Regions from separate parts of the Homo sapiens genome. Here region 2 is linked to region 1. The links come from fine-mapping of genetic effects on gene expression. A gene starts in region 1. The other region holds a variant in brackets. All regions are shown on one strand. Distances are between the middles of the regions. Region 1 holds the start of UNC45B (unc-45 myosin chaperone B). Region 2 overlaps UNC45B (unc-45 myosin chaperone B).

Evidence for each region.
Region 2: its variant is fine-mapped to the expression of UNC45B in blood mononuclear cells (TOPMed, PIP above 0.99).

Annotation. Positions count from the first base shown.
Region 1 is chr17:35,145,786-35,151,157 of GRCh38, forward strand. It overlaps UNC45B (unc-45 myosin chaperone B), which reads left to right and starts at 2,032. Exons shown (of 20, transcript NM_001267052.2): 1 at 2,032-2,125; 2 at 2,479-2,646; 3 at 3,188-3,224; 4 at 4,263-4,438. The coding sequence starts at 2,479. RefSeq lists an enhancer at 5,285-5,372.
Region 2 is chr17:35,168,375-35,173,746 of GRCh38, forward strand. UNC45B (unc-45 myosin chaperone B) reads left to right here. Exons shown (of 20, transcript NM_001267052.2): 11 at 1,463-1,557; 12 at 1,740-1,881; 13 at 2,948-3,088. Among named protein-coding and RNA genes, the nearest start is that of UNC45B, 23 kb to the left of the region's middle. The variant A/C (reference allele first, on the strand shown) is at 3,249.

The sequences.
Region 1 (5,372 bases):
ATTACAAACGCTTGGAATATGTGAGGGAACAACATAGACACAAATCCTTGTCCTCACCAGTGTTCTATGCTTCACAGTTCCTCACACATAATAAATGTTTAAGAAATGTGGGCCAGGCGCGGTGGCTCACGCCTGTAATCCCAGCACTTTGAGAGGCCTAGGCAGGTGGATCACGAGGTCAGGGGTTCAAGATCAGCCTGGCCAACATGGTGAAACTCCATCTCTACTAAAAATACAGAAATTAGCCAGGCATGGTGGTGGATGTCTGTAATCCCAGCTACTCATGAGGCTGAGGCAGGAGAATCTCTTGAACCCAGAAGGTGGAGGTTGCAGTGAGCCGAGATCGTGCCACTGCACTCCAGCCTGGGCAACAGAGCAAGACTCTGTCTCAAACAACAACAACAACAACAACAAAAAGATGTTTAAGAAATGCTTGTGGAATGAATTACTGAATCAGCATTTGAATATAAGATCCCTTGGACCTAAAGTCACAGAACCGCAGGTCTCTGCCAATGTCAGGATCCTTTATCCTATTACCTCATTGCTGCAGAGAGCTTGCCCCACAAAAGGGCCCAGGGCTTGTGATAACATGAAGGCAGGGAATTCATCCATCTATTCATTCATTTATTTGCTCATTCAACAAACATGTGTTAGGGCTGGGCTTTGTGTCCAGCAGGGCGCTACAACTTGTCCAAGGTCATATAGCTGTGTGTCCAAGGTCACAGGTCTGCGAGTAGAATCTAGTATGAATGATTCCACCTGGGATTTTCTTCAGTGTCTTTCTCAGCTCTGGCCAGATAAGTTTGAAGATATGTGTGGGGTGGAGGGGAGAGGGATGAGAGGTGAGTGGAGGAAATCATCATCATGAAGACACCATTCATTCATTCATTCATTCATCCATCCATTCATTCCATTCAGGAAACACACTTCGGACACTGAATGTGCCAGAACCTGTGCAGGAAGGGGGTTGGGGGACAAGCTATATGGGATGCTGTCTTTGCCTTCCAGGAGGAAGCTCACAGCCCAGGCTTGAGGGCACTGAAATGCAGAAGAGTTCTGGGTCCAACTGGGGACAACGTCATAAATTTGCTTCAGGAACTCCCAGTTAGCTAAGGAGAAACATTCCTGCCTCAGGAGAGACCCCTCTGCAATGGTGAATACATAGTTCTTGTCCCAGGAAGACCCCCTTCTGAGGAGGGAGCCTCAGTGTGTCCCAGGATAGTTTCCAGTCGGGTGGGGAGGACCCTTGGTCTCGGGGGAATTCCCAGTCTGACCCAGCCCTTGCCCTAAGAGATCTCAGCCTGATGGGGGATACACAAAGCCCACTCTCTGGGAGCTAACAGTCAGATGGGAGAGGTAGGCTGAATAGATCCACTCTATACACAGGGGGAGGAACAGGAGACCGCATGTGGACCGAAACTAACGAACCACTCACTCACACTAAACTGAGTTAGCAAGTCCTGTTGGTCTTTCTGAAAAGCAAAGACATTTTGAACAGGTGAAAGCAGGGTGGGTTGAGGTGTTGCGCAGAAGTGGAAAAGGGAAGGAACTTTCTTCCCCTGTTCCTTCCCCGCTCCCTCCAGAAAGGTATTTCTGGAACTCTCCAGTTGGTCTGGGATCTGGGCAACTGCTGTGTGTCCCAGTCTGTCAGCCCCTCAGCTGTCACTCTGCTCCCAAAAATAGCAATGGTTGAGGGGAGGGAGAGGAAGCTGTTTATCTGGGATAGATGTGGAGAGGTGCATTAGAGCTGTGCCCAGGGAGGGAGTCTGCTGGGGGGTTCCTGTCCCTTCTGGATCTTTCTGTCACTCTTTGGAATGTTAGTGCCTAAGCCCCCCACCAGGATAACCCAGAGTGGGGTGCTTGGGCGGAGGCTGGTCAGCACCTCCACGTGGTCATGACTGACCAGTCTGGGGAGGGGGAGGGCCCTGAGTATCAGTGACAGACTCCAGGGGCACCTGCCCCTGTGGCCAAATATGGTCCAGAGCCACTGGCTGAGGCAAGAAAATCTCTTGGGTGGGGGCTGGGAGGGGCAGACTGAGGCTGGCTGGCTGGAGGTTGACACAGGAGTGCTCAGGGGAGCAGCATCACAAGAGGGCAGATCGAAAGCATCGTCCTTGCTGAAAAAGTGAGCATGGGCCTGGGGTGTGCCCTGGACTGGGGAGGGAGACGGCAAACTTCTAAGACCTGCAATGAGAGTTCAGGCCTTTGGCACAAACTAAGCAGCTTCGCCTGCTCAGGCTGGGAGGGACAGAGAGTGAGGCACAGGGACTCTCAACTTGGGCCAAGCTCTGAGCAAATGCTATAATGTCCTCATGGGGCAATAGATTTGGGGGTTCTGGGGGTGGGTCCCTTCCAGGCAGAATCCCCACCATCCTCTCTGGTGTGAGGGGACCCTGGAGCTCCGGACCTCAGGCCAGGAGCCCAGCCCTGGGTCTGCAGTGAGGGGCTGACCAGACAGAGCTTCTCCTGTCCCAGCAGATGGCAGAGGTGGAAGCGGTACAGCTGAAGGAGGAAGGAAACCGGCATTTCCAGCTCCAGGACTACAAGGCCGCCACAAATAGCTACAGCCAGGCCCTGAAGCTGACCAAGGACAAGGCCCTGCTGGCCACGCTTTATCGGAACCGGGCAGCCTGTGGCCTGAAAACGGTCTGGGGCAGGGCAGGGCACAGGGTGGGAGTGAGGCAGAGGGGCTTTGGGGCTGAGTGGCAGCCCCTTCACCCTGATAGAAATTGCCCTTCATCCCAGCCGACTCTCCTGGATGCCTGGGGTTGGAGAAGGGTGCCTCCAACCCCCTGACCCATGCCCCGGAAAGACAGAAATTCATCCAGAGCAGAATCAGCCCAATGCCAGGTGCTTTCATGTGTTATTCATGGCATCTTACTAATGGCCCGTGAGATAGCTGTTGTTGTCCTCCCCCTATCGCAGGTAAGAAACTCGGGATCCAGAGGGCTTCATTCATTAACTTGCCCAAGCTCTCCCAAGTAGTAGCAGAGCCGAGATTCAAACCTGGGTTTGCCTGATGTCAAAGCCTGTCCTCTTTGCCATGCCTGTGAGGAGCATGCCCTGGGCCTCTGACAGCCTGCAGCTCCCCCAGGAAACCCTCTCCCCACACTGTGGGGACACTCTCTGGCCATCTCTGCATTGGGCCCACATTAACCGAGTCTCCTTCTCCTTCCCCTTTCCTCAGGAGAGCTACGTCCAGGCAGCTTCAGATGCCTCCAGAGGTGAGCCCCTCCCACCTCCAAGCTTGCCCTGTCACATTCTCCTCTGCATGGCCTGGGTTTTAATCTAGTTACCATTTTGGGGGAAGAAACAGTGAGTATGGAGTGACTTCAGAAGGGAGAGAACAAGCTGGAGAAGGGACTGGAAACATATCCTGTGAAGAGCAGTTGAGGGAAGCTGCAATATTTAGCCCAGAAAAGGCAACTCCCAGGTGGGTCAGAGAGCTGCCTTCAAATTCCTAAAAGGCTGTCACAAGGAAGAAGGATTGGATTTCATCTCAAGGGTTCCAGGGCTGGGCAATGTTACAGGGAACACATTTCAGGCAGGGAGAGGGAAATGTTTTCTGATTAAGCTGCCTGGCTGTCTTTTGTTGTTGTTGTTGTTTGTTTTGTTTTGTTTTTTGGGTTTTGTTTTGTTTTGTTTTTTTGAGATGGAGTCTTGCTCTGTTGCCCAGACTGGAGTGCAATGGCATGATCTCAACTCACTGCAACCTCTGCCTCCCGGATTCAAGCAATTCTCCTGTCTCAGCCTTCCAAGTAGCCGGGATTATAGGCGTCTGCCACCACGCCCAGCTAATTTTTGTATTTTTAGTAGAGACAAGGTTTCGCCATGTTGGCCAGGCTGGTCTCGAACTCCTGACCTTGTGATCTGCCTACCTTGGCCTCCCAAAGTGTTGGGATTACAGGCATCAGCCACTGCGCCAGGCCCGCCTGGCTGTCTTGAGGAGGAGGGAGCTCCCCACTGCTGGAGGTATGCAAGCACCGATTGGTTAAGCCCCTGGCAGGGATCCTGTAGCAGAGACTGGAGCGTTAAGAATTGGATGACATGACCCCCAAGCTCTCTTCCCACCTTGAAACTCTGTGGATCTTACTGTCTCCCTAACAAAGGGGAGGTAAGGGCCAGAGAGTCCACATGGATGGATAATCTCCAAGGAAGACACAGAAACGAAGCAAGAGCATGCTTCCTGGAGTTGGGGCAGTGGGGCTGGTGGTCTGTAGTCTGGCTCCCTAAGGTCCTCATCCCCCGTCTCCCCTCGATAGCCATCGACATCAACTCCTCGGACATCAAGGCTCTGTATCGGCGATGCCAGGCACTGGAGCACCTGGGGAAGCTGGACCAGGCCTTCAAAGACGTGCAGCGTTGTGCCACCCTCGAGCCACGGAACCAGAACTTCCAGGAGATGCTGAGGAGACTCAACACCAGCATTCAGGAGAAGGTGAGCTGGGCCTCTTCCCACAACCCTTGGCTGCCCAGCCCCTCTCTTCATTCCTAGTAGGAATGGGTTAGGGAGGTGGGTCATCAGGGCAGGGCTAGCCCTACCTCCACACTCTGAGATAGAGACAGCAAGTGGCATGGGCAGGCTGCACAGAACAGCTAAGCAGGTGCTTCTATCTGTGATGCTTGTTTGAGGGCACAAGCCAGCCAAGGCTAGAACACAGGTCTTTTAAATTCCAGATGGGGCCAGGCACAGTGGCTCATGCTTATAATCCCAATACTTTGGGAGGCTGAGGCGGGCAGATCACTTGAGGTCAAGTAGTTTGAGACCAGCCTGGACAACATGGGGAAACCCCGTCTCTACTAAAAATACAAAAAATAGCCGGATGTGGTGGGGGCGCCTGTAATCCCAGCTACTCAAGAGGCTGAGGCAGGATAATTGTTTGAACCTGGGAGGTGGAGGTTGCAGTGAGCTGAGATCATGTGCCATTGCACTTCAGCCTGGGCGACAGAGCAAGACTCTGTCTCTCCCACCCCCGCCCCCCCCAAAAAAATTCCAGATGGAGGCTTAGAAATATTATTATAACTTAGTATGTCTGCAACATGATCTCTCTCTCTTTCTATGTATTATAAAATACATGGGAATTGAAGACATCGATGAGGGATAGAGGAGAGCCAGGCCCCATTAGGAGCATGATTGCTTTTTTTGAGACAGATTCTTGCTTTGTTGCCCAGGCTGGAGTACAGTGGCATGATCTCAGCTCCTCACTCCAACCTCTTTCTCCTGGGTTTAAGCAATTCTTGTGCCTCAGCCTCCCAAGTACCTAGGATTACAGACGTGCACCACCACACCTGGCTAATTTTTGTATTTTTCCGTACGCCACATTTCCCGCGCCCCACCGCGGGGCGGGGATTCGGCGCTGGGCTCTTCCCTG
Region 2 (5,372 bases), 23 kb after region 1:
GTACCACCCTCCTACTCAGTACAAGGTGCCATGCCAGGCACCAGGGACACCAAAATGAATGAGTTGAGGCTGCTGTCCTTGAGGAGACCAGGTTCAAGGGGGCACCAGACCCAGCCACAGACCCCTGCAGAACAGGGCAATATCCAGGGGGCTTGTGAGGATGTAGATTCAGAACCGTGAACTCTGCTGCTTAACCCTGAGGACGTTCGTCTCCCTGCTTATGAACAACATGAACACTGAGGAGCTTGTGTCCAGAATGCATTTTCAGAGCAAATTCTGAAGAGTCACTTTCCTTAATCAGTTTCTATAAGGTATTTTTTTTCCACTTTCATTTTACTTTTTGTTTTTTTGAGATGGAGTCTCACTCTGTCACCTAGGCTGGAGTGTAGCAGCGAAATCTCAGCTCACTGCAACCTCCGCCTCCCAGGTTCAGGTGACTCTTGTGCCTCAGCCCCCAGAGTAGCTGGAATTACAGACGTGTGCCACCACACTCAGCTAATTTTTGTATTTTTAATAGAGACGGGGTTTCGCCATGTTGGCCAGGCTGGTCCTGAACTCCTGACCTCAGGTGATCCACCCCCCTGGGCCTCCCAAAGTGCTGGGATTACAGGCGTGAGCCACTGTGCCTGGCCTGAAATTATTATTATTATTATTTTTTCAGACAGAGTCTCCCTCTGTAGCCCAGGCTGGAGTCCAGTGGCATGATATTGGCTCACTGCAACCCCCATGATCTCGGCTTACTGCAACCACCGCCTCCTGGGTTCAAACGATTCTCCTGCCTCAGCCTCCCAAGTAGCTGGGATTACAGATGCCTGCCACCACACCCTGCTAATTTTTGTATTTTTAGTAGAGATGGGGTTTTACCACGTTGGCCAGGCTGGTCTCAAACTCCTGGCCTAACTGATCCACCCGCCTCGGCCTTCCAAAGTGCTGGGAGGATTACAGGCGTGAGCCACCGCACCCAGCATCAATTTTTTAAAAACAAATTCTAGCTTCTGACAAAAGTGAATTTTCTCTTATGAAACCGCCCCCCTAAGAAAAGTCCAATTTTCTCTGGGTAAAATTTTGCACATCTGAATCTGTTATCCAGAAGATAGGATTTCTCTGTCAGTTTCTGTGCCGTAACAAGGTTCCCCATTGAAGCTTCAGATATGGTTAACTTGGTCTTGCTGGTTTTTCAAAATGGCAGGCACAATACATCTGTGGGGTCAAAATGGTGGGGGAAGGGGGCAGGTCAAGAATTTGCAACTTTATGGGCCTCTACCCTAACCCAGAGCATCAGGGAAAGTATCTCAGCAGAGGTGACACCTGAGCTGAGTTTTACAGTCTGCACAGAGGTGGATCCAAGCAAAGAAAGAGGGGCGAAGTGTTCTGGCCATAGAAACCTGTTTGAGCAAGGCTTCATCCCCAAGCCTTGGTGTCTCTGATCCTGCATGTGTCTGCTGTCTCCTCTCCTCCTCAGGGACTCTGTAAGCTCGGCTCTGCAGGTGGCACAGACTACGGTCTCAGGCAGTTTGCGGAAGGGTCGACAGAAAAACTGGCCAAACAGTGTCGCAAGTAAGGGGGCTGTGTTTCCCAGGCCCTCCATCTCCTCATGCGCCTTCCGGGCAAGAGTCTCTGGGGTGTGCTCTAGTGGAGTGTGAAAGGGACCTCACCCCTGGTTCACCACCCTGAAATCGCTTCACCCTCTTGACCTAGCCCTGGGCCCCTTCCCATGTGTGCTCCCTCCTCACTTCCAGGTGGCTGTGCAATATGTCCATAGACACTCGGACCCGACGCTGGGCAGTGGAGGGCCTGGCCTACCTCACGCTGGACGCTGATGTGAAGGACGACTTTGTCCAGGACGTCCCTGCCCTGCAGGCCATGTTTGAGCTGGCCAAGGCAGGTGTCGGGGAGTCTGGCCCGACCACAAACCTCAGGAAAGGTCTGCTGGGTCCAGACCCACAGGGAATGGATCCCAGTCTTCCTCCTGGCTCTACTCCTTACCCCTGTATAAACATGATTGGTTATTTCCCCCTTTCTGGCCCTCATTTTACCTGATTGTAAAATGGACTCCCGACTCCCAATGCCTTCCAGAGATGGGAAGATGCACAGGAGGGCAGTTTGTTTTCCTGGGGCCCTCAGGAGGTGAGGTCTTGAAGGACCTGAGGCAGCTAAAAAAAAAAAAAAAAAAAAAAAAAGCAGGGCATCGTAGCACGTGCCTGTAATTCCAGCACTTCAGGAGGCTGAGGCGGGCGGATGGCTTGAGCTCTGGGGTTCAGGACCAGCCTAGGCAACATGGTGAAACCCCAACTCTACAAAAAATACAAAAATTAGCTGGGCGTGGTGGCACATACCTGTAATCCCAGCTACTCGGGAGGCTGAGGTGGGAGGATTGCTTGAGCCTTGGGAGATCGAGGCTGCAGTGAGCTAGAATTCCAGCTCTGCACTCCAGCCTGGGTGACAGAGAGAGACCTTGCCTCAAGAAAATAAATAAATAAAAGAGGCTGTGCCTGGCCTTTCTGGGAACCTGCCCTCCCTCCCAGGCCCCCCCAGACTCCTTTCCTCATCTGCTGGGCCAACTCCCTGGCCCTTTTCTACCAGTAAATGGAGGAAGCATGGGAGAGATTTTCACCAGGACCGGAAAATGTCCAGCTCCCACCCCATCTCCAGTTGGATGGGAAAGTGTTAGACTGGGCTTGTGGAAGAGGCGCAAAGCGAGGATCTTTGTGGGACAGCTCCTATTCATACTGTCAGAGCTACTGTGGAGGGTGCAGGAGACACTGCTGCCTGCCTTTATGGGGAGAACCGTTCCTCTCCTGCGCTGCTGTCTTTCCTCAGAATGGGCCCTACCAGCTGCACTCCTCCGACACCAACCTGCCGGCCACGTGAGGGAGCATCCTGGAAGCAGAGGTTTGTCCTAAAGTTTCCTTTCTGCTTTCCCTCTCCCCAACCCTGTGCCTTCCAGACCAGTGACAAGACCATCCTGTACTCGGTGGCCACCACCCTGGTGAACTGCACCAACAGCTACGATGTCAAGGAGGTCATCCCAGAGCTTGTCCAGCTCGCCAAGTTCTCCAAGCAGCATGTGCCCGAGGAACACCCCAAGGTAGGGTCAGGCGCGACCCGGGAGGGGTCTGGTCTGTGCCACTAGGCCTCCAAAGGAGGCGGAACGGCAAAAGGAGTGGTGTCAGGAGTGGCACGGTGTGTGTTTGGGTGGTTGGGGGTAAGATACACATACATTGAATATGTTAATGGTAAACTTTCCC[A/C]CCAGATGGTGCTCATGCTTTTTCTTTGTTTTTATTTTCTATTTTGAAAAAAATCCAACAATTTATAGTCTGAGAAAACAAACAGAGCCATGATGGACACTTTGCAATTTGTGTTGTTGATTTTATGGATAAAAGACAGTTTTATTTCATGTCTCCAACAGATAACAATTTGATTTTCTCAGATTTCTGGATTTTGTGACATGGGTGCTAAGTAGGAATCATGAGAGGAGAGGCATGGTCAGCATTAGCCCAGAAGTCACAGATCCCCTGGAACCCTCTCCAACAATTCCCTGCACATGAAGATATGATTTGTGTGTGATTTGTTTAAGAATATATGCAAGATATTGCCAGCCAATAAAATCATTTAGATTTTTTTAATGATCAAAGTAATATAATCATGCTGCAAAACGAGTTAAAATGTGGGGAAAAGAAAATAACCACTCATGATTACGTCATCTCCACATGACTGCTGTTGGCATTTTGATGTTATGTTACCTACCAGAGGCTTTTTTTCTATGTATCTTTTTTCCTTTCACAGTTATAATTAGAATATATTTATCATTTTGTGCCCAATTTTGGAAAAATATGTTTTTCACATTGCCATCTCATTCTCTGAATCATTTTTATTTTATTTATTTATTTTTTGAGACAGAGTCTTGCTCTGTCACCCAGGCTGGAGTGCAGTGGTGAGATCTCGGCTCAATGCAACCTCTGCCTCCCAGGTTCAAGTGATTCTCCTGCCTCAGTCTCTCAAGTAGCTGGAATTCCAGGCATGCACCACCATGCCCGGCTAATTTTGTGTTTTCAGTAGAAACAGGGTTTCACCATATTGGTCAGGCTGGTCTCAAACTCCTGACCTCAAGTGACCCACCCACCTCGGCCTCCTAAAGCGTTGGGAATCCAGGCATGAGCCACCACACCTGGCCTCTGAATCATTTTTGAAAGCTGCATGATGTTTCATCCAGGCAAGGGTGCAGAGCATGTGCTGTGGCTGTGAAGTTCCAGTGTGGCTTCCAGGGCTTGCCCAGGGTTGTCAGCCCCTTCCCCACCACTCCTCACTCTGAGGATTATCTGTAGGGACTCTTTAACCCTGGGTTGACTTTGGGTTTCCAGCAAACCCAATCCATTGTTATGGCGGCTTCATCCACTGTGTCCTTTCCTGCCTATACCCTCTCTCTACCTCCACTCCCACCTCAGCCTTCTCCAAGAAAAACAATATACGCATCATTTAGTCTTTTGGATTATCCGTCTTTTATTTCATTCCTCTGTGAATGAGAGAATCTTTGGGACTGGTTTTCTACGGTATCAGCTCCTCAGGCTCTGTCTTGGGATTAGGTAAGGCAAGGAAGAAGAGAGGAGAGACAATCACACACGACAGCAAGGCGTGCTGTATACCCCTTGGCAGTTGCTTGGGAAGAGGGAATCTGGAGAAGTGTCTTAGTTTCCTATTGTTTCTAGAACACATTGCCACACGCACTGTGGCCTAAAACGCAATTTTTATACTTTTTTTTTTTTTTTTTTTGAGACTGAGTCTCCCTCTGTCGCCCAGGCGGAGTGCAGTGGTGCAATCTTGGCTCACTGCAACCTCCGCCTCTTGGGCTCAAGCAATTCTCCTGCTTCAGCCTCCTGAGTAGCTGGGATTATAGACACGCTCCACCATGCCCAGCTAATTTTTGTATTTTTAGTAGAGACGGGGTTTCGCCATGTTGCCCAGGCTGGTCTCGAACTCCTGGGCTCAAGTGGTCCACCCACCTCAGCCTCCCAAAGTGCTGGAATTACAGGCGGGAGCCACCACGCCTGGCCCGGTTTTAAAAATCTTATAGTTCTGGAGGTCAAGAGTCCTAAAATGAGTCTCACTCGGCTAAAGTCAAGGTGTTAGCAGGGCTGGTTTCTTTGGGAGGCTCTAAGGGAGAATCATTTTGTTGCCTTTTTCAGCTTCTAGAGGCCACCTACATGCTTTGGCTGGTGACCTTGAACCACTCTGACCTCACTTCCATTCCATTGTTACATCTCCTAGTACTAACTCTGATCTTCCTGCCTCCCTCTTATAAAGATCCTGGTGATTATATTGGGCCCACACAGAAATCTAGGCTTACCCCCTCATCTCAAAATCCTTAACTTAAT